Linked DNA regions of Homo sapiens. The protein of the gene in region 2 purifies or fractionates together with the protein of the main gene of each other region. This does not show direct contact. Each region holds a gene or a part of one and is shown on either strand. Other genes may lie near its edges.

Region 1 (16,421 bases), on a different chromosome or scaffold from region 2:
TCACTCCCAACCTCTGGTATCTCACACTTTTGGTAATAGCAAAAGTGAACTGCTCAGAAACCCTGCCATGTTCACTCAAGCATCTTGTCTTCTGCACTTGCTGCTCTTCCTCCCAAACGGGCAATCTCATTAGATGTTCCTTCTGGCAAACACACAATCTCACTCCATGTTCCTTCTGCCAAATGTCATTCTTCTGCTTCTTTCCCTGAAAAATTCTTCTCACTCTGCATGCTTACATTAAATCCTGCCTCCTTTCTTTCTAAAGCTTTCACTCCTCATCACATATGTCTGGCACATAATCAATATCACATATAATAAATCATAATTATAAGATTCCAGTGGGCATCTAGCACACAGTAAGCACTGAATAAAGCAGCAAAATAATAAAAATGACAATGATAATAATAATAAGCTCCTGTCTGTGTTTTTGTGTTCTGTAGCCTTAGAAAAACTGCTTAGTATCTAAAAGACATTTGACAGTTATTTGTTAAGTGGACAAGTGAAAACATAAATAAAAATGTTTTCTTTGTAAATTCTGTTGAAAAACCACAGAAATGAAATAGAAACACTTCTGTTGTGAGCACCTTAAAGATTAAAACTACATCTATTCCATCTTGTCTCCTGCAACTTATAAAACCTAACTTACAGAAGCTCTTTGATAAATAGGTAGCCAAATTAAAGGTGTCCTCATACAGTTTGGATTGTACCATGTATTAGGTGTCCACATCCAGGTAGCATACTAGCATTTTTGTTACTGTGAAACATTTTTATATTTTTATTATAATCTGCTGACCCTTGCATTGGGAAAATTGTACATTATGACAATCTTTTGGCAAATGGTAGCAGAGCATCTTCTTCTAACAAAATTACTGTTATCATGACAATTAACCAGCTGGTGGAAGAACACATCTTGTTCCAACAAAGTAAATGCATCTCTTTCAACTTCAAAACAGGAGGAATGAAGTCAGTAATAGTGAGACCTTGTTGGCACAAGCATATGTAACATGATCTGTGCTTCACTGTTCTTTTGTGAACAAAAATTCCTTACTTTTACTTTTTAAATCTATGGTAGGACCTCCCAGAGCAGGGCTCCACAACTCCCAGGCCACAGACTGGTACCAGTCCACGGTCTGTTAGGAACCATGCCACACAGGAGGAGGTGCACAGCAGGCAAGCCAGGGAAGCTTCATCTGTATTTACAGCCACTCCTTATGGCTCATATTGCAGCCTCTACTCTGCCTCCAGTCAGATCAGTGATAGCATTAGATATTCATAGGAGCATGAACCCTGTTGTGAACTGCCCATCTGAGGGATCTAGGTTGTGTGCTTCCTATGAGAATCTAATGCCTGATGATCTGTCACTGTCTCACTTTGCCCCCAGAAGGGACCATCTAGTTGCAGAAAAATAAGCTCAGAGCTTCCACTGATTCTACATTATGGTAAGTCGTATAATTATTTTATTATATATTACAATGTAATAATAATATAAAGTAGCACAATAAGTGTAATGTGACCGAACAATCCTGAAACCATCCCCACCTTCCCCCAGCCCATGGAAAGATTGTCTTCCACAAAACCGGTCCCTGGTGTCAAAAAGATTGTGGACAACTGACCTAAAGTAATTCACTATCACAAGTCTTACCTGGGTTGCTGTTTTCAGAAGAGTATTTTGGCATCTGTTTTTCTTTGTAGTCAGAAACTAATTCGCAAATTCTATGTATAAAAATATAACAAATAAAATTACTGTTTTAAAATACTGATCTGGAAACTTACCAAATGTAAAATTCTTAGAGTATTTCAAACAATATCAGAATATCAGAACTTAACAGTATTATCCCATCCACTTATGCGTACGTTCTACAAACTTCTCATGAAGCTTCTAATTAAAGAAGAAAAAAAAGTAAGATGAAATACTCATAAATCGAGGGCACTGTGACCCAGTAAATTAACTTGCATTAGCCTGACATAATAGAAAGTGTCCCAACTCTAAATAAGTCCTAGCTCCATAATGAACAGCTATTTGCTCTTGAACAAGCTGCTTCTCTTAGGCTTAATGTCTTCTTCTACAAAGTGAGGACTACGCTGCCTTATTTTACTAGGTTGTTATAATGATTTAACAAGATAACATTTTTTTAAATGCTCAAAGAAATAGTAAAACAATGGAATAATTTGTTCCTAAACTTTATGACTGAAATTATCTTGGAATCCCAAATAAAACCCAGTGCGAATTTTGTTCATAGGTTCTAATATGCAAATGTTGTAGTTTTCAGGAAACGTTATTAAGTCCTAATTTTGCTTCTTAGTTGTCCTACTCTTTATGGCTTCTAATTCAGGGCATCTCAACTATGTCATAGTTTGTAACTAAATTTTTTCATAAATATCTCATTAAAGTAGATAATGTGATTGTCCACTATTACGGAGTTGATCAATCACGCCAAGGGCAGAAAAACCAATGGATGTTAAGACCTGACTTGGACCAATGATCCTTCTCTACAGACTCAAACTCTCAGCCAGATGTTTGTTACGATGATGCTTTATATACATGTTCATCTCCAGCTGACATGGGAGATGAAAACCCTACTTTTATTTTTTTTTTTTTAGGTTCCACGAAGAAGTTGCAAGTTGGCATTCTCTAATTTTTAACATACATACTAACAATATATTTTGTACACAACACCCCACATGTTATTTGGCTCTGGTGTCATCTCACAGACCACCTTACATGACTATTTTTATTGCGCAAATCACAATTTCAATGTTTTTGTGGCACCCATTCTGCTTTGATTCACACCATTTCCTTAAAGCTACTCAGCAAACAGTCAAATGACCTTCCAGTGACTGCGCAAAATATAGAATGCTTCAAAAATTTGTGTGGCCGCCTTATGCAAGGGCCAGCTCCTTGGGAGGCTGAGGCAGGAGAAATGCATGAACCCACGTTGCAATGAACTGAGATCGCGCCACTGCACTCCAGCCTGGGCGATACAGTGAGACTCCATCTCAAAAAAATAAAATAAAATAAAATAAAATAGTAAAGTTTGCAATTCCTCTGACTCAGTTTACCATAATTACAATTATGATTACTATTAAAGCATAAATAGTGAATAACCACAATATTGGGCTTTTCTCCCTAAATAAAAAAATTAATATAAACAATGTAGCTTATTATAAAGAGCCAAAACGATTTTAAAAATGCAGACAATTACCAGGCAAAACTGTTAGAAAGAACCATGTCAAACTTGTTTTTTTTTTTTTGAGACGGAGTCTTGCTCTGTCACCCAGGCTGGAGTGCAGTGCAACGATCTCGGCTCACTGCAAGCTCCGCCTCCTGGGTTCATGCCATTCTCCTGCCTCAGCCTCCATAGCAGCTGGGACTACAGGCGCATGCCACCACACCCGGTTAATTTTTTTGTATTTTTAGTAGAGATGGGGTTTCACTGGTCTCGATCTCCTGACCTCGTGATCCGCCTGCCTCGGCCTCCCAAAGTGCTGTGATTACAGGTGTGAGCCACCATGCCCGACCTACGGCAAACATTTTTAAAGTGAGAATCAATCAAACAATATACACAGGATAAACTCCATTCACTTATTTAACAAGTATTTATTAGGTAGCTACATCCAATATGCTAAGCCTTTTTCTAAGCAGTGAAGATATGGTAGTGAAAAATAAAAACCCTATTCATGACAGTGAGAAAAACACACAATAACAACAGACAGATAAGGCAAAATATACGGTATGTTAGAGGAGAAAAACTAAAGCAGGAAAATGAAATGTTTATGTGTTTGATGGGGAGGGTGGTGGGAAAGTTGAGATGGCCAGAAGAGTCCCTGCTGAGAAAGGGTTTTTTTTTTCTAATACAAAAAACCTTTTATTTGTATATCAAAGACTCTAAGAAACGATGACATAAGGTTAACAGCGCTGATGTCAAGATACAAATAGGTTTGAAGTTAGAGATGATAAATCACTTTGTTTCATTGAACCTTGCCTTGATTACCTTAGAGAGCATTCCTTGTATGCTCCCAATTGCATCTTAAGCATGATGTGTCTGGGTAGTACACGGCTCTTCCTCAGAAAGTGGATGTTCCTTAATGTGTTTCTTTTTACCCTTTTCTTCTTCTTAGAAAGGTGGTTTTAAATAAAGAACTGAAGGAATGGAAAGAGTAAGCTAGGAGGATATCTGGGGAAAAAGCATCCCAGACACAGGGAACTGCCAAGCACAGAGGTGTGTCTGGAGTCTTTAAGCACTAGGGGTAGATACGGGATGGCAAGAATTCAGTGTGGCTGAAGCAGAGCAAGGGAGATAATCAGGAGGAACTTTGACCCATACTCAGAGTGAAAAGGAGGCAATCAGAAGTGCTGGGGCAGAGGAATGACACAATTTGACTTATGTTTTAAATACATCCACTGAGTTAAGAATTGATGAAAAGGGAAGTTTTTAAAAGCCAGGACGATCAATTCCCAGTCTATGACACTCATCTAGACTGCAGATGACAGTGGCTCAGATGTACAAGATATGACTGGCTTCTGGACATATTCTTCAGGTAGACCTGACAAGATTTACTGAAAGATTAGATATGAGGTGTCAGAGGGACAGATGAGTCAAGAATGACACTGACATTTTTGGCAGAGCAATTGGAAAAGTTGCCCTTAACCAAAGTAGGAAAGACTACATGAGGTGTAGATTTCAGGAAGGACATCAGTAGCCCAATTTTGGATCTGACACGTGTGTGATACCCAATAACTAACCAAATAGAGACGTCAAGTAGGCAGGCTGATATAGAAATCTGGAATTAAGGAGAGAGATCTGAGCTGGAGACATACATTTGGAAATCACTAGCATATACACAATAGAAAAAGTCACGAGGGGCCGGGTGCAGTGGCTCACACCTGTAATCCCAACACTTTGTGAGGCCAAGGCAGACAGATCACCTGAGATCAGGAGTTTGAGACCAGGCTGGCCAACATGGGGAAATGCTGTCTCTACTAAAAATACAAAAATTAGCCAGGCATGGTGGCACACACCTGTAATGCCAGCTACTCAGGAGGCTGAGGCAGGAGAATCACTTAAACCCAAGAGGCAGAAGTTGTAGTGAGCTGAGATCACACCACTGAACTCCAGCCTGGGGGACAGAGTCAAACTCCGTCTCAAAAAAAGAAAAAGAAAAAGTCAGGAGAAAGAAGATTGAGGACTGAGCCCTGGGAAACAACAATGTCCAAAAGGAGAAAGATGAGGAGGAGCAAGCAAAACAGACCATGATGAATGGACTAGAAATGCAGGAGGAAAAGCTTGAGGGAGTGAGGTCCTGAAAGCCAAGTGAAGACGCCGTTAGGGAGGAGACGCCCTCCACTGGCTCAAATATTGCTGACAGATTAAATAAAATGAGGTGTAAGAAAAAATGCATAATTTACAGAAAAAAAATTGTGATAATCTTGAGGAAAAACAATGTTGGAGGACTGCTGAAATTGAAGACGCCGGTGTGAGATTAAGAGTGAATGAAAAGAAAATTTGAGTTCGTGAGTGTGGACAGTTCTTTTAAGGACATCATGCTTAGGAGTCATGACTGAGAATGTTGTAATTTTCTTCCACAGTCATGGAAAAGTAATAGACAAATAGTTTCAAGTTTTATATAACAGGTGTAGTTTTCAAATTTTATATAACAATAATATATTTTAAAGGTTATAAAAATTATACACATGTGGCATTAAAAATGCCAGACTGAGGTGTTAAATTCTTAAAACTATAGAACTAAAAGTCGCCTTGAACATTTCTAGATTACACATAAGCTGATTATCATTTTATTCATGCTTATGCATAAAGACCAAGAAATACTAAAAGTTTCAAGGAGAGTATTTCTTGCTTGATAAAATCAGCCAATTCTAGGACAACTGATACTCATCAAATATACAAAGTAATTGATCACAGCAAAATACTGGGTTCTATTAACAGGAATAAAGTGGGAGAAATGCAGACAATAATCTTATTTTATAAATGAAATTTTTAAAATTATATGAAGTCACTGTGGAAAAATATGGTGAGGTGAATACTGAAATATATCCTTTTCTCAAAGGAAGGATAATTTCACACACGCAGGGCACTTTTACAAATAAGAGTCACTTCACTTGCAGCACCTTCCTTTTAGCACAAGGGTCAGCAAACTAGCACCTTGGGCCAAATCCAGCCCACTGCCTGTTTTTGTAAGTCAAGTATTTTGGAACACAGCCATGCTTATTCACTTTACAGTCCACAGTGTCAATTAGCTGGGTGTGATGTTGCACACCTATGGTCCCAACTAGTAGAGAGGCTGAGGTGGGAGGATCACTAGAGCTCAGAAAGTCAAGACTGCAGTGAGCCATGATCACACAACTGCACTCCAGCCTGGGAAACAGAGTGAGACCCTGTCTCAAAAATAAATTAATTTATATAGTCCACAAAGCCTAAAATATTTACTAACTGGCTCTTTGCAGAAAAAGCTGGCCAACTCCTGGTTTAGCAGATGAAAGATCCTTTGATACATTTTAATAAAAGTTTTACCCAATATACTGAAACGTTTATATTAAATACAGATCCCCATGTACAATCCCTTGGCAATATTCAGATTGAGGGTCCAATATTTCAGCACTCAGGCACTGACATAAAAATTTAATAACTAGCAATCTTGTTGCTAACAAGGTACAGCATCAATATAGCATGTAGCTTCCATTTGCAACACAGGAAATATTACAAGAATTTTAACAAGAACTCTTAAGATGTCATCACTGATGCTTTAAATACACTTTAATTGTGAAATAATCAGTATACTCTAGATCTAACCTCACTTGTAAAAAATGGTTGCATACTACATTAATTTCTGGGTATGAAAATTGAGCTATTTCCTATTGGTAATGATTTACTTTTGATAATGATAATTTCCTATTGATAAGGATCCATCTTTTTGATATAATAATGCTGTAATAAATGTCCTTATACATAAGTATATATGTAACATCTACACAAATATCCTTTACATATATTATATATCCTTATTGTTATACATGTGTTTGTGAATATGCTACTAAATTAATGTTCAAAATGTATTTACCAGCAGTGTATGAAATGTCTTTTACAATGAAACCATTTCTTTTGCAGCAACACAGATGGAGCTGGAGGCCATTATCCTAAGCAAACTAATGCAGGAACAGAAGATCAAATGCCACATATTCTTACTCATTAGTGGGAACTAAATAATGAGAACTCATGGACACAAAGAGGAGAATAACAGGCACCAGGGTCTACTTGAAGGTGGAGCGTCACGGGAGGGAGACGACCAAAAAACTAACTTTTGGTGTTTTGCTTATTATGTGGCTGATGAAATAATCTGCAGTCCAAATCTCCATGATACACTTTACCTATATAATAACCCTGCACATGTACCCCTGAAACTAAAAGAAAAGTTCACTAAAAAGAAAAGAAAATGCCTTTTCCCTCACATTTGCCAATACTGGTTATTTTTCAAATAAATTAATGCCTGGAAAAATGGTAACTCATTGTTCGCTGATTTTCATTTTTCTGATTAACGGGCAAGGCTGAATATCCTAGTAAAACTATAAAATTTGTTCATCATGAATATTAGCCCAAACTAGGGTTAGTTTGACAGCACATAGTTATCTCCTGTTCAATGTTGCCATAGGCTTACCTGTGATACTCTTCACTTTCGTTGTCAGGAAATTGCTGATTTTCAGGTGTTCTGCTCTTCCTTTGAGGAATTAATCCATCATCACCATTGCCAGCAGTGACACCATTACTCAGGTTTTCTAGTAATCCCACATTATTACTTTCATGCTTCTTCATTTCTTCTTCAACCTTGAGTGGGATATTAAGGATAGTTATCACTTTATTGAATAAAAAGAACCTTTTTAATTGATTCTATCAATTGACTCAGTTTGTCATTATTTTAGTCATTAAAAATATTTCACACTTAAATTTGATCATATATATAGAAATATTACCATATAACTTTAAGATGTAATTATCATATCATTAATATATCACAGAAATTTTTGTAAAGTTTGCTTCATTTCTGTTTCAATGAATGAAACAGAATTTTCCAAAATTCAAAAAGGGCCCTCCTTCATTTTATGCTTTTATTCTCAATCACTCTTCAGAATCTTATGTATGTATTTACCCCATTTGACTCATGGGAACACGCAAATAAAAAGACAAAGATGCAAAATGTGTCTTCTGTCTTTACCACCTAGATTTTACATTAAACAGTCAGATTTAGAGGATGACACACTGTGCGGCTTCAGGAACAGAAAGGAAGTTTGCCCTTTTCTGCGCTAAGATATTCTTCTACCCCACTGCCTTTGAGCATTCTTTTTTCATTTGGTTGCTGGGATATCAAAAACATGATGGTGCTCACTGAAAATGGGAGCCAAAGTTTGCCACAACACAAGAAGCAGAGTGAAACTGCTGACGTGCAAGCATGGAATTCCAGAAAATGAGATGCTCCCCAAATTTCACATTGAATAGCCATACAATTTTCTAGCTGGAAGATACACAGAATAAGAAGCTATCTTCTTTAGCCACATTATCTATTGATAATCAGACTAAAACCAAGAAAGATAAAATGATTGGTCCAAAGCTCCTAAAGTGGCATTACCTAGCATTTTATGGCACCATTCAGGATTGTTCCATAATAATCAAAGAATATCTCTAGGCTTTGTATCTCTTGAAAACTCAAAGTACAGAATTCTTTCTGAGTTAAATATTAACTTTTTCACTCATGATTTATGCTACTTACATGATAGGATCATGTATGCCTACACTTACTACATTTTGTTAAACAACATAATGTAAAAATCTAATTCAACAGAAACATTTGAATATGAAGGTATACCTCTCTATCACCATCCTTATTTATTTCTGGTTCTTGAGACATTTTCTGCAGAGGCAAAAACAGAAGGTTAATTTGCTTGTTGTGTTTCTGTGATGTCTCCTCTTTTGGAGCGCATGTTTTAAAAAAATTTTATTCTTAACTAATGAAGTATGGACGATGAAAAATTAGAAAATAATTAAAATTAAAATTTAACTGTTAAATAAATAATAATTAAAATTAAGAATTAACTTTTTAATCTATGTTTAGCTACTGCCACATTACTGGCTTCTGACTAACATGTGAAAAATAATTCACCTTAGCCCAACGAAGAAAAAAAACGTGAACCAGCAAACTTAACTTGGTCACCATTTGTTTGGACTAAACTTGTTATGTGTTAAATCTACCAAAAATGAATCAGCAGATGATTTGTAGTGTTCCAAAATCTTCCTCACTTGAAAAGAGTTTACCTCATGAAACCCTAACTAGTGAGCCCCTACAGTGCACTGAAGTGCTTTTCTAAAAGATTCCTAACTGGATTGTAGGCACCATTTAAATTATTAGGAGCCGAAATCAACACCAAACAGAAAGAGATGCAATTTCTCAAATTTTAATTGAGATTATATACTGTCATATGATAGTGTTATGTATCCAGATTATCTGCTTAAGTCCAGTTCTAATATATTCTAATGTGTACTAATTACAGTGGATAAAGATTTTTTTAATAATATGTACTAATTTTCTGCAACTGAAATAAATTAGAATGTTATTGTGTTTGTGCACTAACACCAAAGGTTCCATTCTGCAAGATATGATTCTTGTAATAGGCAGCTGTGTTGCTTTTATGACCTGGTTCCCTCCCTGAACAGAAACGCTGAGGTCAATGAGAGACCATAAGGCAGAATATATTTTTAACCTTGGTATCAGTGACTGACAATATAAAACTGCAGATTTTCAATCACTGGCCATGATTACTCCTTAACCATGAATCCAGCTCAGGGACCATCAGAGTTACATTGTTCATAATTCTATTGCTTAATAACATAATCCAATAATTGATGTACCTTCTTCATCATGTTCGGGTGTTGTAAAAATAAAAGAACAAAGTTCTGAAATTTGTTTTTGCCTCTATTCCAAAAGGAAAGATTAGCTATAAGCTAATCAAAAAGGCAGATGAGAATATTTTAAATAAAAATATTATAAAATAAGAGTATTTTAAATTTTATAGTGGTTATGTTTTTTAAGTTAAATATCAAATGTTAAATTAGAATCCATTCTTCTGTTAATGAGATTACTGAATTTATTAAAATAAATTTTAACAATCTATTAAAAAATTCTTTAAAAAATCTATTGATTCTCAAAACCTAGTCTGAAAGGTAATTTCATTTGGACTATCTAATATTATTAAAGCAAAGAAAACAACATTAAATCAAAAATTTAAATTTAAAATTTCCCATGCCTCTGGCTGGCTATTTTCACTGCCTTTGAACCTTTGTGACTCTTCCTCTGATGTCAGCTTTAAGTCTTGTTCTGTTGAGAAATCCATATATTCAGTTAAAATGAACCACTTAGAACAGTTAAAAACTATTGCCTTTATAAAAATAGATTTAAGACAACATTTTATTTCATAAATTGAGTGTTTAGTTTTTCATGAAATAGTTATTTAGGAAATAATTCTCCCAAACTTCAACAAACCACTTGGGGAGACACCTGATGTCATTCACTCACAAATTCATCCACCCAACATAAATGAACAAAACCACCAGAAACACAACTTTAAAATACAGTAGAAACATATAAGGTAACACAGTATGTTGTTCTCCACTTCCTAATAGTGAAGCAGTAAATGTAAAGAAAAGGAAATTTAGTTTTAAAGAGAAACAAGTTTTCCCGCACTTAGCTAGTCTGACTCTAAGGATAGTAACAAGCAGGGCCCAGGAAAGGTCATGGTGACCCTGCCTGAGAAGCCAGAGCCCACAGGTATGGGCTCCAGACATCCCACAGCAAGGTTAAGAAAACAAAATCCTTTACTGTCTCCCCTTCCCCTCAGCATTCACTCAGAGCTGTTTTTACAAATGCATATTATTTGCAAGTTCCTGTTGTCCTTCAATGCAGCTGCAAGGTCATAAGCTACGCTGAGGTTGCAAAACTGTCACTATATGATTAACTGCCTTTGTTCTGCTTCTGTAAGCTTGCCTACATAAGCCAAGCCCTGTCTTTGTTCAGGGCTCAGCTTTCGGATGCAAATCCGCTGAGCTGGTGCGAACCTAAATGAAATCCTCCTGTTTCACCCACTTGGTCTCTCCTGCCTCCTGTTTTCTGCAACAATAGTACCTTACAAATGATTTCAAAAATTACTACTGACACCTTTATTAGTGTACAATCTCTTCCCAATATCTAAAATGTTTCCCTCCACGATTCAGACATATTTATTTTCATTTTTCTTTCTTTTTTTTTTTTTGAGCCAGGGTCTTGCTCTGTCACCAGGCTGGAGTGCAGTGGCGCAATCTCAGCTCACTGCAACCTCTGACACTCCCTGGTTCAAGCGATTCTCCTGTCTCAGTCTCCGGAGAAGCTGGGATTACAGGCATGCACCATCATGCCCTGCTAATTTTCGTGTTTTTAGTAGAGACGGGGTTTCACCATTGGCCATGATGGTCCTGATCTTTTGACCTTGTGATCTGCCTGCTCCAGCCTCCCAAAATGCTGGGATTAGAGGTGTGAGCCACCACACTTATCCTTATTTTTATCTTTTAAAACAATGCTATGAGAACGTCTTCCTTGATTCTGCATGTCTTTCCCCAGATAAACAGGTACCTCCTTCCTTGAGGCTGCCTTAGTACTTCACTGATTTTTCTACTGCATCTTTACCACCTGAACTCTACATTATTCCTCCACATGTCTGTCCCGTCTGCTCCAAGACTGCAGAGGACAGTCTTGCACATCATCTTACTCACATTTTACTCAGAAATTTCTTATTGAGTCCTGCTAAATACATGCTAGGCATTAGGGTTTAAAAACAATTAAAATAAAGCATGTCAGGGATGGCTTTTCTAGAAAACATGCCCAAGCAGAGACTTAAATATTGAGACTAGCCAGATTAAAAGGGGTAGAGGGCAGGAAAGGGTGACGGCATGCCACACAGCAGCAAGAGCGGGAGCGAGGCCTGAAAGAGTGAAAATATTTGCCTACAATAGAAGGATGAGTGAGTAGGGCATTGCCAGCAGCTCAGTAATGCCAGAGAAAGGGCACACAGGGAAAAGGCCTAAAGATGGAGAGTGGGGCAGAAGTCAGATTATGAAAGCCTTATGTGTAATTTTAAGATGCCTGGACATTAATGTTCAAGAGAGGTCCCTGATCCTATCTGCATTTAGATATAGATCACTTTAAATGCCAAAACCAATATTCCTAGTGAACCATTATTCATTAAGACAAGGTGACAGATAGCTCATGTGGACACAGCTGAGATGATACTATGTAGCAAATTCTCAATAATTCTCATGAACACTTGGAAAGTCAATTCTATAAGAAGTCAGAGAAATTATAATAAATCACTTAATACTTGGTTTGGGAAGGTGATTTCTAAAGTTATAGTGCCTATGAATTTAACTAATAATTGTGAATTCAGAGCTGTGACAATAAAGCAAAGAAACCACATTGCGTTTGAGTCAGCAATCTTTAGATTTCTATCTAGTCTTCCTACCCAGTCCATAAATTCTAACTCCTGGTACTCACTCTCAAGTTTATGTTAAATACTAGCCTATACAAAAAACACTCTTTCTCTTTTTTCATTTTGTTATTTATATATTGCTTTGTTTAAAGGAAGAACACAAAAATGCCCTGCTAAAGGGATTCTGTTTGGTTGCAGGCTGCAAGCGGGGAAAAAATCAAAGTGTATTTTGCAGAAAATGATTTTTTAGAAGTCAGAACTATGACATGAAGTCAAGCAGGGCACTCTAGGACCGAATTTGCTGTGCTGCCTTCATATGCTCCTTGCTCGCTCTTTTCTGGCAGCTGTGACTCACACAGGTCATGGAGAGTATCATTCCCTAAAAGGAACAACTCCGATATTCATCTTTATCCATTAAGTTCATCTGTCCCATTCTATGTCTGTGGATGCTAACTTTTGATCATTGATGGTGATACACATGGACATTTATCATCAACTTTCAGATTCTTGGATCTTTGACAAGTCTTATTAGTGAGAGTCAAACTAGTAGGATGCGAGTTATAAATGCTGGTTATCCAATTACCTACTCAAAATATCCTACATGAATATTCCATTAAACGTGCATAGAAAAACATTAGTCATTCCTGCTGACCTGCTGCTCTTTGCTCTTCAGTATTCACCAGAAAATTTCCTCCTTCTTCCTCACATCCAGGTTAAATACTACTGTACAACCTGGAAACCTGGAAATTATCTGACATTTCTCTCTGTCCCCCAAGCCTTTCTCATTCAATTATTACTAAATCATATTGACGATACCTCTCTTCTGCCTCTGCTTTATATTCCCACTGCCACTGGGAACACAAACATTTACAAAATGGCTTTTATTTAAAAAAAAAGCCTGCCAACTATTAATGTTATTTCTTACATGAAAAAAAATTAAGCAAAACAAATGAAAAAAGCATATCACCAAAAAAACAAAGGCCAACATATTAAAACAAGTAGTTGAGATTCCTAACTTTATGTATTTCACTAAGGACGGGTGAAAACCTTGTAATACATTGATGCTACTCCAAGGATGTATGACAAGGAAACTATAGCTGACTACTGCAAAAACTTCCTTTGTCTCCTGGTTTCTTTACATGGTAAAGAACCTTCCATCAATCCCAGCAAACTATAGGCCACAGGCCAAATCCAATCTGCATTATGGTTTTGTAAATAAAGTTTTATAGGAGCTCAGTCATGCCTGTTTGCTTACATATAATCATGGTGGCTTTCACACTACAACAGCAGACAACAGCAGGGTTAAGTAGATATGACAGAGACCACATAGTCTAAAATATTGCCCACCTGGCCATTTACAGAAAAAGCTTGCTAACCCGTTTTACACCATAACCAGAATGCCTTAATACTCAAATTTAATCTTGTGACTCCCCTGCTCAAATTTCTCCAATGAGCCCCTGCAGCACACATTGTTGGCTCCCTATCAGTAGCCATTCCTTATTCTTTCTTGAAGAAGAAATCCAAGTCTATTGGGATATTTATTATCCCAATCCCCCTCCTCAGCCTCAGAAACAGAAATGTTTATTCTAAGCTAATCAGGTATTTACCTTCCCAGTGCCTGGTTTGGGAATGAGCATGTGGTGTGACCCAGCCAATGAAATGTTACAGGAAGCCCCTTGCATGCTTCTAAGTTTTCTCCCTGTTTAAAAGACACATGTGAAGAAAAGCAGCCCTTGCGATGTTGTGTTGTGAGAACAAGATGTTTGGAGCTGCTGCGGATTAGCCAACCATGAAAGGAGACGTGAATAAAACACTGCCAACAGCACAGCTGAAAGAGGGAAAAGTGGGATCCTAGGATATCAATGAACAACCAAAACAACTCTGGTTCTTACTGTTTTAGCCACTGTTCATCTAGTATTTGCAGTCCAAAGCATTCTACCCGGTAAATTTCCCATGGCACACAGGATAAGACCTACTCATCTCTATAGTATTAAAAAGTATATCATAAACTTGCCTTAGCTAAGTATTCACCTCGTTCCCAACCTCTGGTATCTCACACTTTTGGTACTAGCAAAAGTGAACTGCTCAGAAACCCTGCCATGTTCACTCAAGCATCTTGTCTTTTGCACTTGCTGCTCTTCCTCCCAAACAGGCAATCTCATTAGATGTTCCTTCTGGCAAACACACGACCTCGCTGCATGTTCCTTCTGCCAAACATTCTTCTTCTGCTTCTTTACCTAGAAAAATTCTTCTCTCTCTGCATGCTTACCTTAAATCATACCTACTTTTTCCCAAAACTTTCATTCCTCATATGTCTGGCACATAATCAATATATAATAAATCATAATTATAAGCTTCCAGTGGGCATCTAGCACACAGTAAGCACTGAATAAAGTAGTAAAATAATGAAAATGGCAATGATAAGAAAAAGCTCCTGTCTGTATTTTTAATTGTCTGTGGTCTATAGCATTAGAAAAATGGTTACCATCTAAAAGACATTTGATAGTTATATGTTAAGTGGACAAGTGAAAACATAAATAGCAATGTTTTCTTTGTAAATTCTGTTGAAAAAGCACAGAAATGAAATGGAGACAGCTCTATTATGAGCACCTTAAAGATCAAAACTACATCTATTCCATCTTTGTCTCCTGCGACTTATAAAACCTAACTTACAAAAGCTCTTTGATAAATAGATGGCTAAATTAAAGGTGTCCTCATACAGTTTGGACTATATAATGTATTAGGTGTCCACAACCAGGTAGCATACTAGCATTTTTGTTAGTGTGAAACGTTTTTCTGCTTTTATTATAATCTGCTGAGCCTAGAGTTGGGCAATTTGTATATTTATTATGACAATCTTTTGGCAAATGGTAGCAGAGCATCTTGTTCTAACAAAATTACTGTTATGATGACAATTAACCAGCAGGTAGAAGAACACATCTTGTTCCAACAAAGTAAATATATCTCTTTCCAACTTCAAATGAGGAGGAATGAAGTCAATAATAGTGAGACCTTATTGGGACAAGCATATGTAACATGACTTGTGCTTCAGTGTTCTTTTGTGATCAAAAATTCCTTACTTTTACTTTTTTATCTATGGTAGGACCACGCAGAGCAGGGGTCCTCAACTCCCAGGCCACACACTCATACCAGTCCATGGACTATTATGAACCACACCACACAGGAGGAGGTGAGCAGCAGGCAAGCCAGGGAAGCTTCATCTGTATTTACAGCCACTCCTTATGGCTCATATTACCGCCTGTACTCTGCCTCCAGTCAGATCAGTGATAGCATTAGATACTCATTGGAGCATGAACCTGTTGTGAACTGCCCATCTGAGGGATCTAGGTTGTGTGCTTCGTATGAGAATCTAATGCCTGATGATCTGTCACTGTCTCACTTTGCCCCCAGATGAGACCATCCAGTTGCAGAAAAATGAGTTCAGAGCTTCCACGGATTCTACATTATGGTAAGTTGTGTAATTATTTCATTATATATTACAATGTGATAATAATATAAAGTAGCACAATAAATGTAACATGATTGAATAATCCTGAAACCATCCCCACCTTCCCCCAGCCCATGGAAAAATTGTCTTCCACAAAACCGGTCCCTGGTGTCAAAAAGGTTGGGGACAACTGACTAAAGTAATTCACTATCACAAGTCTTACCTGGATTGCTGTTTTCAGAAGAGATTTTTAGCATCTGTTTTTCTTTGTAGTCAGAAAGTAACTGGCAAATTCTATGTATAAAAATGTAATAAACCAAATTACTATTTTAATACTGATATAAAAAAACTTACCAAATGTAGAATTATTAAGAGTATTTCAAACAATATCAGAATATCAGAACTTAATAGTATTATCCCATCCACTTATGAGTACATTCTACAAACTTCTCT
Region 2 (16,421 bases):
TCAAGTACCATCTCATGATCTCAACAATTCTGGAATCGCATTATTCCCATTGAAAACAAGTAACCTAAATTCACTGCAGCATCTTTGATCTACAGAGATGATACCACAAGGCTTTTCAAGGTACTCCTTTACTAATGGATTTAAAAAAACATCCTTGGTGAAGTGATGGTCTTCTAAGCCCATCCCTCAGAGGATGAATGAGCAGATTAGCAAAGAACAGATCCGCATTCCTGTCTTCCTAAGACTCTGGACTCTTTCAGTCAGGAAAGTTCTAACATTTCAACACAGTTGACTGTAGGCCACCACTGAGTTTAGGTTTTAGTTAACCAATGTGACAGACTTATCACCATTCCCAGATTCTCAGGCCAACACATTAACTCACATTTTCTGTGAGTATGCCTGCCTTATCTGATGTAACCCCTTTTGGTCAAATACCCTTAGAATCCACTCCTATTCTGTCCTCCAAATCCCTACAATGCAAAGTGGCAATATTCTGCAACTCTTCTGAATAGGCCCTTCCTCCGGACCTGATCTTATACTTCTCTGTTTAGGGTATTTGTTATTTTCCAAAAAGTAAAGATGGATAGTGGATGTAAATCCTGAGGTTAACTGATACCTGCTTATGAGAGAACCATCTCAGGTGAATTCATTGATACACTGTTTTTCCTTTGCAGGGCAAGTGGAGATGCGTACTGGGCTATTCTTGTGTTGTTATAAAGAAACACTTGAGACTGCGCAATTTATAAAGAAAAAAGTTTAATTGGCTTATGGTTCTGCAGGCTTTACACGGAGCATGATGCTGGCATCTGCCTAGCTTCTAGGGAGGCCTCAGGAAGCTTACACTCATGGAGGAAAGTGAAGGGGGAGTAGGCAGAAAGCAGAAGCAAGTGAGAGAGTGAGGGGGAGGTGCCACCTGCTTTACAACAACCAGGTCTCACGAGAACTCACTATCACAAAGACAGCACCAAGATGATGGTGATAAACCATTCATTAGAAATCTGCCCCCATGATTCAGTCACCTCCCACCAGGCCCCACTTCCAACATTGGGGATTAGAATTCAACATGACATCTGAAACTGTATCAGGAGGTAAGACTTCCCCCTCAGACAAATGGGGCTGCCTCTGCCAGTAGGAAAGTTTCAGGGAAATGTAAAAGGCTTAAGCTTCTCAGCCTTTCCTGTGGCGATCCAAATGTTCCCATCTCATTTCTGAAGGCCCCACTTCTTCCATACCAATGCCCTTACCTTAGCATGTGAGACCCAGTACTGGCCAGTAATTGGTATTACAACTCAGCAGCCCTTACAATAAAAGCTCTAGGTTTGAGTCTTAGCTATATCTACAAAATACAAGATATTCCCCTAGAGTTGCCATAGATTTTGTGATGCTTTGTTTTTTTCCCAATTTTTCCCTTTGCTTTCAATTTGTCCTTTCCCCTGTGTATATGCTCTAGACATTCAAAAGAGCCAGTCCTCCTAACGATCTCTGTAATCTCTACCATGACCATAGTGACTATGTGCCACAGCCCCTTGATCTTCCAACACTGTACTCCACTTGTATTCCATGACTCCATGACATTACTAGTAATGATGTAAGCAATTGTGACATCACCACTTGCCACCAATGATAAGCATCCATTTTCCCTGACAAGGAAGTTATTTGTATATACATCAAATATGTGAGCAATCCAATTCCAGAATTCCACTTTCCCAGGACTACTCATGGTACAAATTACTGTATTAGTCAGGGTTGTAGCAGGAAACAGATGGCACAACCAAAAGTAATGATCAAAGAGGGTGTAGGCAAGAATAACAAAAATCTATGGAGATGGTGCAGCAGCTTAGGCTAAGCAAGAGCAAGATCTTTCTACTTCTAAAATGAAAAGGCAGGGAAAAGTTGTTCCTGAACCCATGAGATGTATATATGGAGAAGGCTATGTCAGAAGCTGTGATGCTGAGGAACACAGCTATTTCCAAGCCACTGCAGGGCAGGAAGGCAAGTGGATAATCATCCTATTTCCCTTTCTACCTAGTCCTCTGCTAATACCCTCCCCCACCTCTATTTGCAAAACCCGATCAAGGAAAAGACAGCCTGGCCAACAAGGTACATAGAAGTCAGCTTCCTGCGGTAGTGAAGGGTGAAAGATAGTGGATTTAGAGGGGAAAAGAACAACTAGTTTAGCAGGCTTCTTGCTCATGCAACACTGGAAAAAGCATGAAGAGCTTTAAAGGGTGCTAAGTAACAACCGAAAACACTCATGGAACTATCAGGAGCATCAAATTTATGGGATTTCACTTGCCTATTGCTGAAGGCTTCTAGGATAGTAAAAAAGTGGTCTTACACCTGCAACACGGTCAGTCCCCTAAAGGTGACCTGCAGAGGGGTATACCACACCAAGATTTGGGCTCTACTGCTTAAGTACTCAACAAATGTTACTTTTTTCCCCTTCTAATGCTGGCTCCTTTCCAATGTTTTTTCATTCAAAATGAAAAACATTCAAAATGAAATTCGTTTTCATTCAAAAATGACCCTAAAAGAACAGCAACTATGTACTCGTGGGCAGGAAAATTCCTCTGAAGCCCCACACCTTTTTACTTAAAATACAGGCAAATTTGCATGCTACTTACAATGTCTGTAATACTTTTATTATGAAAAGATTCTTTCCAAAATTTCAGATAAAACGAATGCCTCTAGATGACCAATTGCTATCTTTTGATGAGTTACTACCACACACCAGTGCCTACTCCTAAGTATGTATACTCCTTGAGAAGTGTGGGCTTAAGTGAGCTCAATTATTCTGACACTGTTGTTACTTCTAAGTAGCACACAAAGAGATTCCATCCTAATGTTTCAATCCTAATAGGGAAATGTAAGATTTAATCACAAAACACTATACATACAAATAGTAAACGCATAACAGCATAAAATTACAAATATTGGAGATTATCCCTGGAAAGGGAAAGATGAAGGGGTGGTAACTAGGGGGTAGGAAGTCTTTAGCTGCATTTGTTTTATTCCTGAAATGAGAGGAAAAAAGATCTGAAGCGAATATGACAAAATGCCAACATGTGCTAAACCTAGGTGTTGGTTACACGTCATTATTTCATGGAATAAGCAAAAGCTACATATAAAGGTCTCTTCTTCCCTGCCCCAGGATTGCTGGTTGTTAAATATTTACCAGCACACCACTAAGTATAGTGGTTGACTGAGGTTTTGGATCTAAAGATCTGAGCCTAACTCTGATCAAATAACAAGCTTCAGTATTCAATGAATATATAACCTTTAGTAAGTTGTTCAAGAACTCAGTAACTTACTTTCCCCATCAATACAACTCCATAGAGTTATAAGAATTAAATAGCCTGATATGTGAGTGCTTAAGATGCAAAATAGCTTCTAATATAAATACCATAAGACATATACAGCAGTTACCTGACATTAACTGATAAACTGGGAATACATCCAAAGACCTTTGCCAATCCCAAATTCACAAATACTATGAAGGTATATTTATTTCCCCCATAAAAATGAAATCCATCATTCATTAGCTCTCTTCATATCCTCTTTAAACGTACTGATACTTGGAGTTGTTTTCAGGAATATTTTTGACCAAAGATATATTTGCATATGTGTATTTATAAATCTATTTGGTCCTCAAGTTCAGATGGTAATAGTTCCACTAGTGAGGAGCTGTTGAGTTACTCAAACCTAACTGGTTTTTGAGTTTCAGATTCTGAATAGGTAACAATTCTAATTTTGATAGTGAAAAATTTAACTGAAAATTTATCCAAATCTTTTCAATTTCTGAGTCTGAAATGGAAGAGACACAAATATACAGATTCATTTTAAAAATAAATTTATGAGAGTTCCTATGCAGGAAACACATTAACAGAGACCAATAAAGCCATACATTGGTCAGTATGTTATAACTGGACCCAGCAGACATGAGTATGAAGCAGCATGTGCCAGCCCAGCACAAAACTCAGCAAAATGCAGCCATCAAATACTTGGAAAAAGTGGATATGAATACAGCGTTAACAAAGAGCTTCATGTGGAGGGGGATAGGATAATGGGTTTAAGAAACAACTAGATCCCTATACCACTCTGCATAGGACTGTCCCTTCCTCTTAGAAGTCTCAAAAAATGTAACTCCTATGCCCACTTTGTTCTCAAAAAGCTATTTCACATGAATGGAGTAAATCTAAGATGTGAGAGATAGCAAATGGGGAACAGGGAATCCAACACAGGAGAGACAATCCCCAGGATCATGGTAAAGGAGATCCCAGGATTACAGCTGTACACCAGCCATAGAAGGCACAAAGTCCAACTTGGACAAAGCAGATTGCTCTAGGAGTGATTTTTTAAAAGATGAAAGAAACTGATGGAATCATTGTTACGTTTGAACATATAGAGAAGATATTCATACATATGGTAGAAATCTATGCAGTCAATTAACTAAAGGAAATAAGAAATTAGTATATGGTAAGGATAATACATCACTCAGCTGTATACAGCAGTTACATAATCTCAATAATGTACACATATCCTTAGTGTAATCACAGTCAACAATGTAAACATTGAATTGTTATGTTGGGAGGAGAAAAGGGGATAAAAAGGGAATGTGTAATGCTGGGAAGCAGAAGAGGGAAGCTTTATTTTGAAAATCAAAGAAACAATGCCTAAAATTAAAAAATCAAGTAAAAGCAATATAAGCATGTCATTTGGAGACATGGTAATAAATAACAAAAAAAATAACATCTAAAAGAGTTGAAAGGGCTTGCCCTGGAGACAGGAAATGGAAGAAGTCAGAGTAATGGCCTTTTTCCTTAGGAAAAAAATCTTACAGATCTATCCAATTTTTTAAAGCTGTGTACACATGAAACTTTGATTAAAAGTAATAGAAAAACTAAAAACTAAAAAACACAAATCCAACACAGTGTCAGGCTCATAGAAATTCCATAATAAATGTTCATTTTTTTATTATTATAATGACAAGACAAAGTTTTTCATATCACCATTACACTCATGCTAGGGATAACAATACTTCCTCTATTATAAATGCTACTTGACCTTTATTTACTATGCTTGGCATAACTGGGCATGCTTAATAAAATAAAAAAAAAAAACATTCAAATTTTTTTCTTTTACTAATCGAAGTACCTAATTTTATACAATTTGCACACTTTTAATGTTAGTAACAGAAACAATGAAATTATTTTACTTCTTGATACTTAAGAGTTTAACTCCAAGACATGCACTACAACCACATAATAGATTTTTGTCATCAATATGATGGTCCTGGCATCTTATATATTAAGTTCACACTTTAAATTAAGTACTACTTGCTAAAACGAAAACAGGTAAAAACAATGAACAGACGGTTCACGTTAAGAGGAATACGAAAAGCCAATAACAATACTGACATAACAATCTTATTTGTAATGAAAGAAATACAAATTTTAAAAATGACATACCATTTTTTAATTACATTGGCAAAAATTAAACCAAAAAGAATACCTACAATTGACCAAGGAGTATTCTGGCAGGGGGAGGGAAGTCACATACATATAGTACTAATTAGAGGGGTAAATTGTATAATTAAAGCCCTATGAACCAGTCAAACCAATCATTCCACTTTTAGAAACTTTCTCAAGGACATAATTAAGCATGTAACTCAAAATGTACAAGGACATTCACTCTGCCACTGCTTGTAGTAATAAACTGCAGATAATCAAAATGTCTAACACAGAAAAAAGTGAGTAAATTATGGTAAACCTTTCTTATGGGAAGGCAGTGGGCTTCCAATTCCATTCTTCACACCTAGCTTAGCTTCTTTCTTTTCAACAGAGTCTACTTCTAACAGAGACCAAAAATGTCAGACATTGCCTTTCTCTGTAACCTGATCTAAGTCAATGGAAACTGAGGGGAAATCTTCTGGAGGCTTTTGTTAAAAATCTTCCTCATGGATAAAACAAATGAGAGACGAAATGGCCTTTTCTGCCTTTGAGATACAATTTTACAAAGATGTAAAACTGGAAGTTATAGCAGCAGCTCTTGTGATCGAGAGGTGGAATAGCCTAAGGCAAAACAAACCAACTGAGGTCAAGGCAAAAAAAGTGTGTCTTTAATGACACCCCTGAACCCTGTGTTATGTCAAACAATTTCCTAGGTTACTTAGGCCAATTATATTTGGACACTGTTACCTCTGGCCAAAAGCATCCTAACTTGTATTAGCTATACAACAGAGTACATTAGAACCACAAAAAGTTATGTTACAGAGGTATATTTATGAACAGTAGATGTGCAGTTAAAAAGAATTTACAAAACAGTACGTTTCCATGTTTTTAAAAAAATCAAATATGTCAATATGGATTCATTTGCCAAGAAAAAGGTCTGAAAAGATACTCAAGGTTTTAAGAGTAGTTATCTTTGAAAGATAGCATTTAAATGTTTCCTTTTGCTTATGTGCATTTTCTATTTTTTTCTACAGTTAGCATGTATCACTTTAAGATTCCGCCATCCTTCCTATCAATTCAATGCAATTTAGGAAAGAAAGAGGTAAACATGTATTCCAGTGAGCTATCTTGAACCAGAAGTCTGCTTTTTTTTTTTAATTGGAAAAGTTTCTGTTCTTTAAAAAAACTTTCGTGAAATAAAATTTGATACTAAACAAGCATTTATTTTTCAGTGAATACGGAAGATCACAAACAGTTTTCATTTCCCTTTGTTACTCAGGGAATCATCATGACTTTGTACCATTTCGTATTGGAATTTCTTCTGTGAAGCAAAAACAGTCCCAAAATGAAGGATCTTCAGGTGTCATGGGAACGGCAGATGACATTAAATCATTAAAGTTGAGAATAGTAAATTGCCTCTGGGTTGGTTTGGAATCATCCTGAGATGGAACCTAAAAGACAAAAGCAGATTACCTTATTGTTATATTGCATGTTAATCTTATGATCAATTTCATAATCATGAAAATAAGTAAGACCAACTTACATTTCAGTAGTATTAAATGACAACATAGGATTCCTAGAACATTGTTTGTATTTCTTATATTAGTGTTGCCAATACAACAAATCAAAAAAAAATGAAATAGAAAACCTGATTCTTGAACTTTTTTATATAACAAAAACCTGTGGTATTTTACATGTAGATTTACTGGGCCCCACATCCAAAAAGTGTGATTTACTACATATCAGTTAGAAGGGATATCAAAATCTGTAATTTTAACGAGCAGTCAGGTTATTTTGATAGAGGTGAGTGAGAAAGTGAACTTTTGTGAAATACTACTCTAAAAGGTGGGTCTGATAAAACTGCCATAACTATACAGAGATGTATACTTCTTTAGGAAATTATTTATTCAATATTAAATTTAAACTGTATCTTACTCTCTGAGATAGAGCCCTTGTTCACAATTGAACCCAGTGCAGACCCTCTTTAATATTCTACACATCTAGTATAAATAGTACTTGGGTTTTGTATAGCGCTTTAACAAGTCAAGGTCCAGTACTTATATGACTGGTCTCATAGCTATGTTGTGATACGGTTATCTTAATTTTATGGATGGGGAATCTGAGGCTCAGGAAGAGCAAACAATTCAAACAATTTGTCCAAGCTCAAAACATAGGTTAAATGGTAGATGTGGGCCTAGAACCCAATTTTGTGAATTGTACTCTAGTCTTCCCAACATGCCACTGTTGCCTAAACAGGCTCTGTCCAGGGAAATGAAAAGTACTGAATATGCAAATGTTTCAACAATTATAAAGCTCTATGAAAACAAAAGGTATTTTTGCAGGGAGTGTGAAGCTGAGATTTAAAAACAGAAGGACGAGTAACCTGGGTCAGAACATCTTCAGATAACAGGTGTCAATTTTAACATGCCATCCCTTTTTAAGGAAGATAATCTATGGAGAACTCGTAATCCTTTGATTAATCTATCAAAGGTTTGGTGTGTTGCCTGAGCTACTTTTGTGGAAGTAACGATGCATATATATTGATCATGCTACATTCTTTCATGTTGATTTACTAAAAATAATGGAATGCATGTAGTTTTCATTAAAACATACGTTTTCCTTAAATAAATACTTCTGCAGAATCACAATTATATGAAATCTAAGAGTCTTTGACCCTAAGTTCTTCCCCCACTTGCTTACCAGGTAATAGGATAAGAAAGTATAAAAACATTGTGGCTGAATAATTGAAACTGATGTTATGCCACAATATGACACAAGGTCTCTTACATGTTTGACACTGTAACTTTGGGAATAATTCAGGATATTACTTTAAAAGGAGGAGTGGATTCAATTTGCAAGGTAATTCCATTACTCATCAACCTTCAACGTGGTACTCTTACATTCAACACAACCCCAATTCACCAAGAAATAAACTACTGTTAAGATGACTAAGATAATCTTGAATGTCTATTGGAAATATGAGTAGCATGATAGTACTACCATATTTTTTTTTGTTGTAATACTTAAGCGTATACGAATGTGAAGAAGCGGGTAACATTTCTTTTTTTTGAGACGGAGTTTCGCTTGTTTCCCAGGCTGGAGTGCAATGGTGCGATCTTGGTGCACTGCAACCTCCACCTCCCAGGTTCAAGCGATTCTCCTGTCTCAGACCTCCTGAGTAGCTGGGATTACAGGCGCCCGCCACCACACCTGGCTAATTTTGTATTTTTAGTAGAGATGGGGTTTCTCCATGTTGGTCAGGCTGGTCTGGAACTCCTGACCTCAGGTGATCCGCCTGCCTCAGCCTCCCAAGGTGCTGGGATTACAGGTGTGAGCCACCATGCCCAGCTGCTTTTTAAAAATGTTTCTACAAAATCCCTAGTGATCTTAATATTTGCTAATAAAGAGTACTACTATATCTATAATCTTAAAAAAATCTCTCTAAACTGATATAAGGCAAATGACTATTTCCATCAATAAAGAGCAAACTTAACATTGATTCATGCTATTTAGAAAAAAGAGAAATCCTAAAATCTTACATCCTGATGTCTAGATCCATCGGGTTTCCTAAGAGCAACTGCAACAAAATGGTGCTCATCTATTTTGCTTTCCTGAAAGATAAAAGGTAAATAAATATAGATTATAAAATATGTAAACCTAGATGTAACTTTGTTTACATTTTCTAAATCTCATTCTCTCTCTCTCTATATATATATACATATACGTACACTCACACGCGTGCATATATATATTTCCCCACCTCCGCTAAACTACTTTAGAAGTTACATATGTGCTGGCCCTTTACTCTTAAATACTTCAACATGTATTTCCTAGTAGGCACATTCTCTTACATAACCACAGCAGTTAATAACGTCAGTAAGTTTAACATTGAAACAATACTTTATTAGCTGTATTCCAAATTCTGTGAATTAATCCAATAGCATCCTTTGTGGCATATCCCTCCTCCAGAACAGGAGCCCAGTAATGGGCAAGTAGGGACAAGTATTGCATTCAGTTGTCATGTCTTGTTAGCCTTTCTTTTGTTTTTTATGACATTAACGTTTTAAAGTACAAATTCCCTAAATCTGCTTTTTATTAATAAAATATTGCTCATTTGGGGTTTGTTTGATATTTAATGAGTGGATTAGGTTATGCATTCTCAACCAGAATACTACACAGGTGATGTGCCCTATCTAGAGGTACTTGACAGCTATCTGTCCTTCACTGGTGATGTTAGTATGTATAATAAAGTACAAGGTTAAAAAAAAAAAATCAAGTTGCAACATTGGTATGTAAGCATTTAGTAAACTACATACTATCACGTATGAAAAATCATGGTGGAAATTTATAGGTAAAACATAACCAATATGCAATTTTCTACTTTCCTCTACATATGAGACAAAGGGGAAGGGGACTTTAAAATGTAATATATATTGAAGCAGTTACCAGAAAAAATTGTAAACACTTAAAAGCTGAACAAACTTTTCACTGAAAAACCACTTTACTAAAGCATTCTTCCATAAAACGTCAGAAGAAACTACAATTAGAAATAGTACTTAGGGAGCTTTTTCATTTTTTATCTTCTTCTTCCTATCTTCATACCTTCAGGTACCCAAGTCAGCATAAAGTGAAATTCAGTAAGGATAAATTTAAGATATGTTTAAAGAGGAAAAATATAAGACTAAGTATCAGAAGATTTACTATGTCAAAGTTATCGCAAAGTAAGTCTGCTATGTAGCCCTGTTCTGTTTTCTCTTTAAACAAACAAGAAAAAAGTAACTGGAATGTACAAATTTAAAAATATCTAAAATAATTTTTCAGAAATTTAGCATATAAGATATAGTTCTTATATGTATTGAATATTTCAATAAATAAGAATCATGCTTAATGTATAATGAGAGGTGTATGTACACTAACAATTGATAGTTGGACACTAAAGAATGTTAACTAATGGATATACTGTTTTGAAACTTTCATTTTTTAAATTTTTTGTAGAGGCAGTGTCTTGGCCTCCCAAAGTGTTGGGATAACAAGCATGAACCACCACATCTAGTCCTTAGCAGTTATTGACCCAGCTCTCTTCTTCAAAATGCTTTCTGTCCTTGGATACCAACACTACTCTCTTATACCATTTTGGTCATTCTTTATCAGTCCCCTCCACAAATTCACCTTTGAATATTAGTATAGATGCTCCACGACTCACGATGATGTTATATCCCAATAAACTCACTGTAAGAAAATATGGTTACATGGAAAATGCACTTAATACACCTAACCTACCAAACATCATAGCATAGCATAGCCTACCTTAAATGTGCTCAGAATACTTATATCAGCCTACAGTGGGCGAAATCATCTAACACAAAGCCTCATTTATAATAAAATGCTGAATAGCTCATGTAATTTATTGAATATTGTATTGAAAATGAAAAAAGGAATGGTTGCGTGGGTTCTGCAAATATGAATTCTACTGAATGCATTATCACTTTCATACTGTCATAAAGTCAAAAAAAGTTAAACCATCATAAACTGGGGACCATATATATTCTCAGGGCTCTATTCTAGGCCTTACTTCTAACTTCTTGTGGTTTCAATTTCCACTTCTCTCTTCATAGATTCAATATATAGCTGTTCCTTAGGTAATCTCACAGTTTCAACTTCAAATCCATGGTTTCAACTACCATTGACATAATGGTTATACTTATAACCATTATGATTATAATTTTTTTCCTCTAGCCCAGCCCTCCATTCCATTCACCTATCTGACATCTTCACTTAGATGTTTGGTATCTCAAACTTAACATCTCATTTATTTTCTAGTATTCAGTATCTCAACAGATGATCTTGTAAGTCAGAGAACTGCTCTATAGCCCGTTTGCTGGACACAAGCAGGACCAATCACAGTATAATGACTGGTCTGGAGATAAACAACTAGCCCAAGCTAGGCCAGGGCATCCCTTCTCTAGGATTTTTGGGCTTGGAACAGAAAGTGAGTTTACCAGTTTGTTTAGGTTTTTAAACTGTAAATTGTTTATAAACTGTTACATGCAACAGTATGTTACATGCAAGAGCCATGTTTTCTGTCATGCAGACCAGAGAGGCTGAGAAAGCTGGTGTACAGAATGAGAAACATGGGTGGGAGAAAACTGAAGCCAAAATGTAGAGAAAGGCAAAACTAGGAGACAAAAAGAGCTCTAAATATTTCATCCCCTAATTCTAGCTAATACTGGGGACAGTTACTGAATCACTCTAGTAACCTATAATACTGTTTTGGGGGGTTTTTTGGCTGTGTGTGTTGGCTTCTCTCACTAGCAACCAGGAACTGCCAGTGACAGAAACAAAATACAGTAAGAAACCAAAATATTTAACTTGATCAATACCTTGTAGGATCTACCAGCCTGATCTGGAATCTCTCTTAAATACCCTCATTATGGCCCAGCCAAAGTGGCTGCGTTTGGCTGTTCATACATGCAAAGCTCCTTGTCAGAGCCTCTTTTCCTTTCCCGTACTGAACTCACAATGACTCATCTTTCAACTTCTTTCAAGTATTAGTATAAATGTTACATGCTCTCATAGTAGCCCTGATTTCACTTTCAGAGCAGCAGGACTGGATTCAGTTGCGTCCAAATTCAGTGACTAGCTTACCCAAATTAATCACACATACATGCATAAAAAATAGAAATTCTTAGTTTTAACAATTCTAACAAATTTCTTACCTCAAATGCCCATTCTTTTTCTTCCTCTCCATCCAGGAATAAACGTGTTTCTTTATAAACTTGGCCTATATCCAAGTTTAATGGAGATAGATCAAATTCAAGCCGCTGCAATTCAAATCCTAGTCCAACACCAATGGCTTTTATGAAGCTTTCCTTAAGTGCCTAAGATACAGAAAGACATTTTCTCTTAGAATTTGGTGGACAAAAATTTTTCATAGAATCTACAGGTCCAAAAGATAGGGAGTTTCAATGCTATACTACATTATGGCTATATAGCTATAACCTTTTTAAAAAAAAACCCTTACAGCATGAAAACAAACCATCCATATGATCTTAGGGCAAATCATTTAAGCTCTCCGTGCCTGTATCCCCTCGTATGTAACCTGCGATGATGATAACAATACCTTCCTCATAGGGATGTTATGTACATTAAATTAACTAACTTAGAGCTTGAAGTAATGTCTTCTGGCATGTAGTATATATTATCAGTGTTTGTTATATAGGACCTCATGTGTATTAGTTCCTTTATGACAGAAAATATTATTTATCAATGGTAATGATTTGTTTTAGCTTTAAGTAAGTACTTTCTAACTGAGCATTACATATAGGTTAAATTTTCTTAAAATGAAATGTCATTATAATGTAATACCATATGCATAAAAACCATAAAATTCTCAAGCAATCACCCATTTACTTCAAGCACTGTTTGGACACTACTGGGTAACCAAGGACTCTGATTTTAAGTGAAGATAATGGAATCATTATAGACTTTTGCTTTCAAAATTAGAAAGAATTATACCCAATTCCTATAAAACATATCCAGCTGAGTCCACTCATCCTTAAAGCTTCTGATTGTTTCCCATTCTTTGTTGGTAAACTTTCTTTTCATAATATGAAAGAATTCTGGAATTGAACCACGACCTGCCAATTAAGAAATAAAAAATTAAATAGCAGTTCTATTAAAAAATAAAAAGTTGCTCTATTACTAAAACTGTTCAAGACAGCACCCCCCAAAGATCTAAAGGGCAACCATACTTTTGAATACATTTAAAATAATCCTAAACAAAATCTCGGCAAGTCAAAGCAAGTTGAAAATTAAAAGAGTAAACACACTATGACAAGCAGTGGTTAGCCCAGAAATATAAGAGTAGTTTAACAGGAATTGGTGATATTCTGTAAATTATTAAGTAAGCAGGAAAACCATATGGTTGTATCAATATATGTCCCAAAAAGTTTTGATAAAATTTAGCAGCCAAAGCTGTTATAAATTTTAAATAACAGGAAATTTCTTATATAAAAGGATACTTATCAGAAGCCCAATTAAAATACTCCTAAAGTAGAGCCATATTATTCTAAAGTTTTATTTTGTTATGTAACAGAGAAAAAAAGGGAATAATTCTTTTATTACAATTTTTGGAAAATTAGCAGAAAGCTGAAAACTGTTCTTTTATTCTACATTATTGCCACGGCTAAAAAATTAATACCTTCTTCAAAATGTTTTCCAACTTGTTTTCTAATATGACTTATTCAAATAAAAAGATTTTCATTACTCTTTCGTGGTTGCAGTTGCAAAATAAGCTCATTTTTAAAAACTTGAAATATATCTTTAGTGCCACTATTTCATAGATAACAAAATATTACATAGCATTCTAAAAATAAATGACAAAAGATACAACTCAAAGGATCTGATTCCCAGAACCAAGGGGTAAGATACATGTTAAAATTCATGGTAGGCCTCTGGTACTGAATTTTCCAAAACATTAAAATTATGTGTTTGTGTGTCTTTACCACCAAGCACAAACTTTCTACCATCATTCATTTTATATAAATATGCATAATATGTATAAATATTTACACAAATACATATTCAACTAATATTAAAAGTAAATTGATCACTGTTCTTGCCTTTTATACTTACAGCCTAATGGGCCTATCAGAGAGCCTGTTCCAAGGTAAGTGAACCACAAACATTTACTAAGTGTATACATGAATGTTAACTATTATATGGTAAATTATTTCCTAAATATTCTTCTGCCCTGTATCCTTAGTTCATTATTACATTATTTTCCAGAAAACCTTTTGAAGGTAATCCCTTTGTGGATTCTGTTAATATGGGCTTACTCCAATTCCCACTTCTAAAATAACCAACTCCAAAATTTGACATTCTCAAATGATTAACACAATTCTTATGATAGCTGATACCACACACTCTATGGGCATTTCTTATGTAAATAAATATGTGGAGAAAAAAGATGTTGAAGATGTTGAACATCCCCTTAATACTTCACTGGCATTTAATCACTAATTCTCTCTATGAGAATTCAACAATTAGAATTCCATTATGATCACTCACTAAAAGCATACAAGTGCTAGGTACCACGAACCGCATGATGAGCAAAACAGACATGGTCCTTATCTTCACAGAGAGTTTACAGTTTCTCCTGCAGTAACCAAATACCTTTCCCACAATCATCTCAAGGGTAGAGTATATTAAAAATCGGTTCTGTCATGAAATAGTTATGATTCTCCCAGTACTCCCGCTTCAAGAGTCAAAATAGTCTCCTCTTAGTTCATCAGGAAGTATTTCTGCCGATCCTGTTGCTGATATGTGGTACTATGGATCAAAATAAGAATCCTCATTCATTTTTAGGCACCGAAATATTAAATTGTGATCTTAAGAGTTCAATGGCAAGAAATTCTTACCCCTTTTGGGGCCATGGATCCCTTTGTTGTCTGGTGTTTACTCCTCAACACCTTCCTGAGACTAACATTAATAGAAGCCCCTCAATAAAAACTTTTTTGTTCAATGCATCAATAGTACATACTGGCTTGATAAGTAACATCTTAAAGAACACTTCAAAGAAAGTAAAGACAGAAAGCTTCTGAAGTAACAAAAGTAAATCTGGAAATTTTAAACATTGGGAACACTATATCTACAAAAATCAAAAACTGTTTCTTGTTGAATGGATTTTGGCACAAACAGCATATGTAACAATAATGGGAGGAATAAACTATTTTTGGTTTGGAAGCCTGCATTATATATTTTGAGTGAAACTGTAGTTTTAACAGATTAATGTCCAAAAAATCTGCATTTAAAAAGATACGCATTTTGTCATCTATAGTGTCATTCTGCTTGCTGCTTTCTTCAAATTTTATTTTTATAACCTCCAAGAAGCCTTCTGATTTTTAACTAAATAAGATGGGGCAATCAAGGAAAAAAATTTAAATAAGCATGCTATTAAAAAACTGATTAACATAAAAGGCAATCAATCTGGCACAATCACTAGAAAGCAATCACATAACTCATTATGTACAGCCAAAAAATATCCGATACGAGTGCGTTTTCATATACTTTAGAGCATCTTATTTAGTCCACAAAATAAAAAATTTGACAGCAATAGGAAAAGGTGATTTCGTAAATATTCGGCCAAAGCACAGCAGCGCCACACTGTGGCATTATGGTGGATATACAGTGGGCAAATATTGTGTTAAGTATTAAGTGCAGTTTACCTAGGAAACTGGAATAAAGAAAAATCGGTAGGAAGAACAGTGAATTTGTCCCTTAAACTATTTGAAGACAGCACAATTACTGCACATACGTTGGCAAGTTCTAATAATACCATTACATACACAGAGAATCATCAGTCAAATTTAGAAAAACCTGATCTTCCATCTTATAGCTTGATCATTAGGGAGAGCAGTGTTAGATATTGTATTCTGGAATGATTAACTAATCAAGACCACCCAGCAACTAATGTTTTATTTTAAACACAGTAGTAACATACAACAAAATCATTTAGATCCAATGCCTTGAGCAACTATTTCAGGCCTACGGAAAAAAATCCAGAACCTCAGGGCCTACGACATTAATCCCTCTCCAAAACAAGGTCACCAATATGTATACACAAATATATACATATAACTACCTCAGCCTTTAGGAAAATGGGCTGGTCATTTTTGAGGGAAGTGGAAGGGAGTTAAGCAATGCCCATCTACGTGCTTGCTTCAAAGTACCAAAATTTAGCCTTAGATAATAAATCATATTAGAAATTGTAATAGTTTCACTTTCTAAGTACTAAACTGTATATAATAGAATTATATATAATTTTGCTTCTATGAGAAGTGACAGTCTTCTAAGATATGAGTTAGTATGTACACCGTAATGCTTATCAGCTCATTTGTCCAGGAACTTATCCAGACAAAAACCTAGAATAACACAAAAATATCTGAGCTGCCAATATAGGTTTCACAAACT

What was found.
Region 1: the proteins of AASDHPPT (region 2) and POTEI purify together in Homo sapiens (affinity purification with mass spectrometry; 3 studies listed by BioGRID and IntAct, with this or other methods). This does not show direct contact.

What each region holds. Positions count from the first base shown.
Region 1 is NC_000002.12:130,480,361-130,496,781, forward strand, and holds part of POTEI (POTE ankyrin domain family member I), read right to left. Parts: intron 16,263-16,421; coding exon 16,192-16,262; intron 10,381-16,191; coding exon 10,310-10,380; intron 8,920-10,309; coding exon 8,875-8,919; intron 7,839-8,874; coding exon 7,672-7,838; intron 3,520-7,671; coding exon of another isoform or gene 3,454-3,519; intron 1,714-3,453; coding exon 1,643-1,713; intron 1-1,642.
Region 2 is NC_000011.10:106,087,223-106,103,643, reverse strand, and holds the end of AASDHPPT (L-aminoadipate-semialdehyde dehydrogenase-phosphopantetheinyl transferase), read right to left. Parts: intron 13,088-16,421; coding exon 12,966-13,087; intron 12,329-12,965; coding exon 12,167-12,328; intron 9,062-12,166; coding exon 8,990-9,061; intron 6,902-8,989; coding exon 6,737-6,901; 3' UTR 4,949-6,736; downstream 1-4,948. UniProt on the Homo sapiens protein: Catalyzes the post-translational modification of target proteins by phosphopantetheine.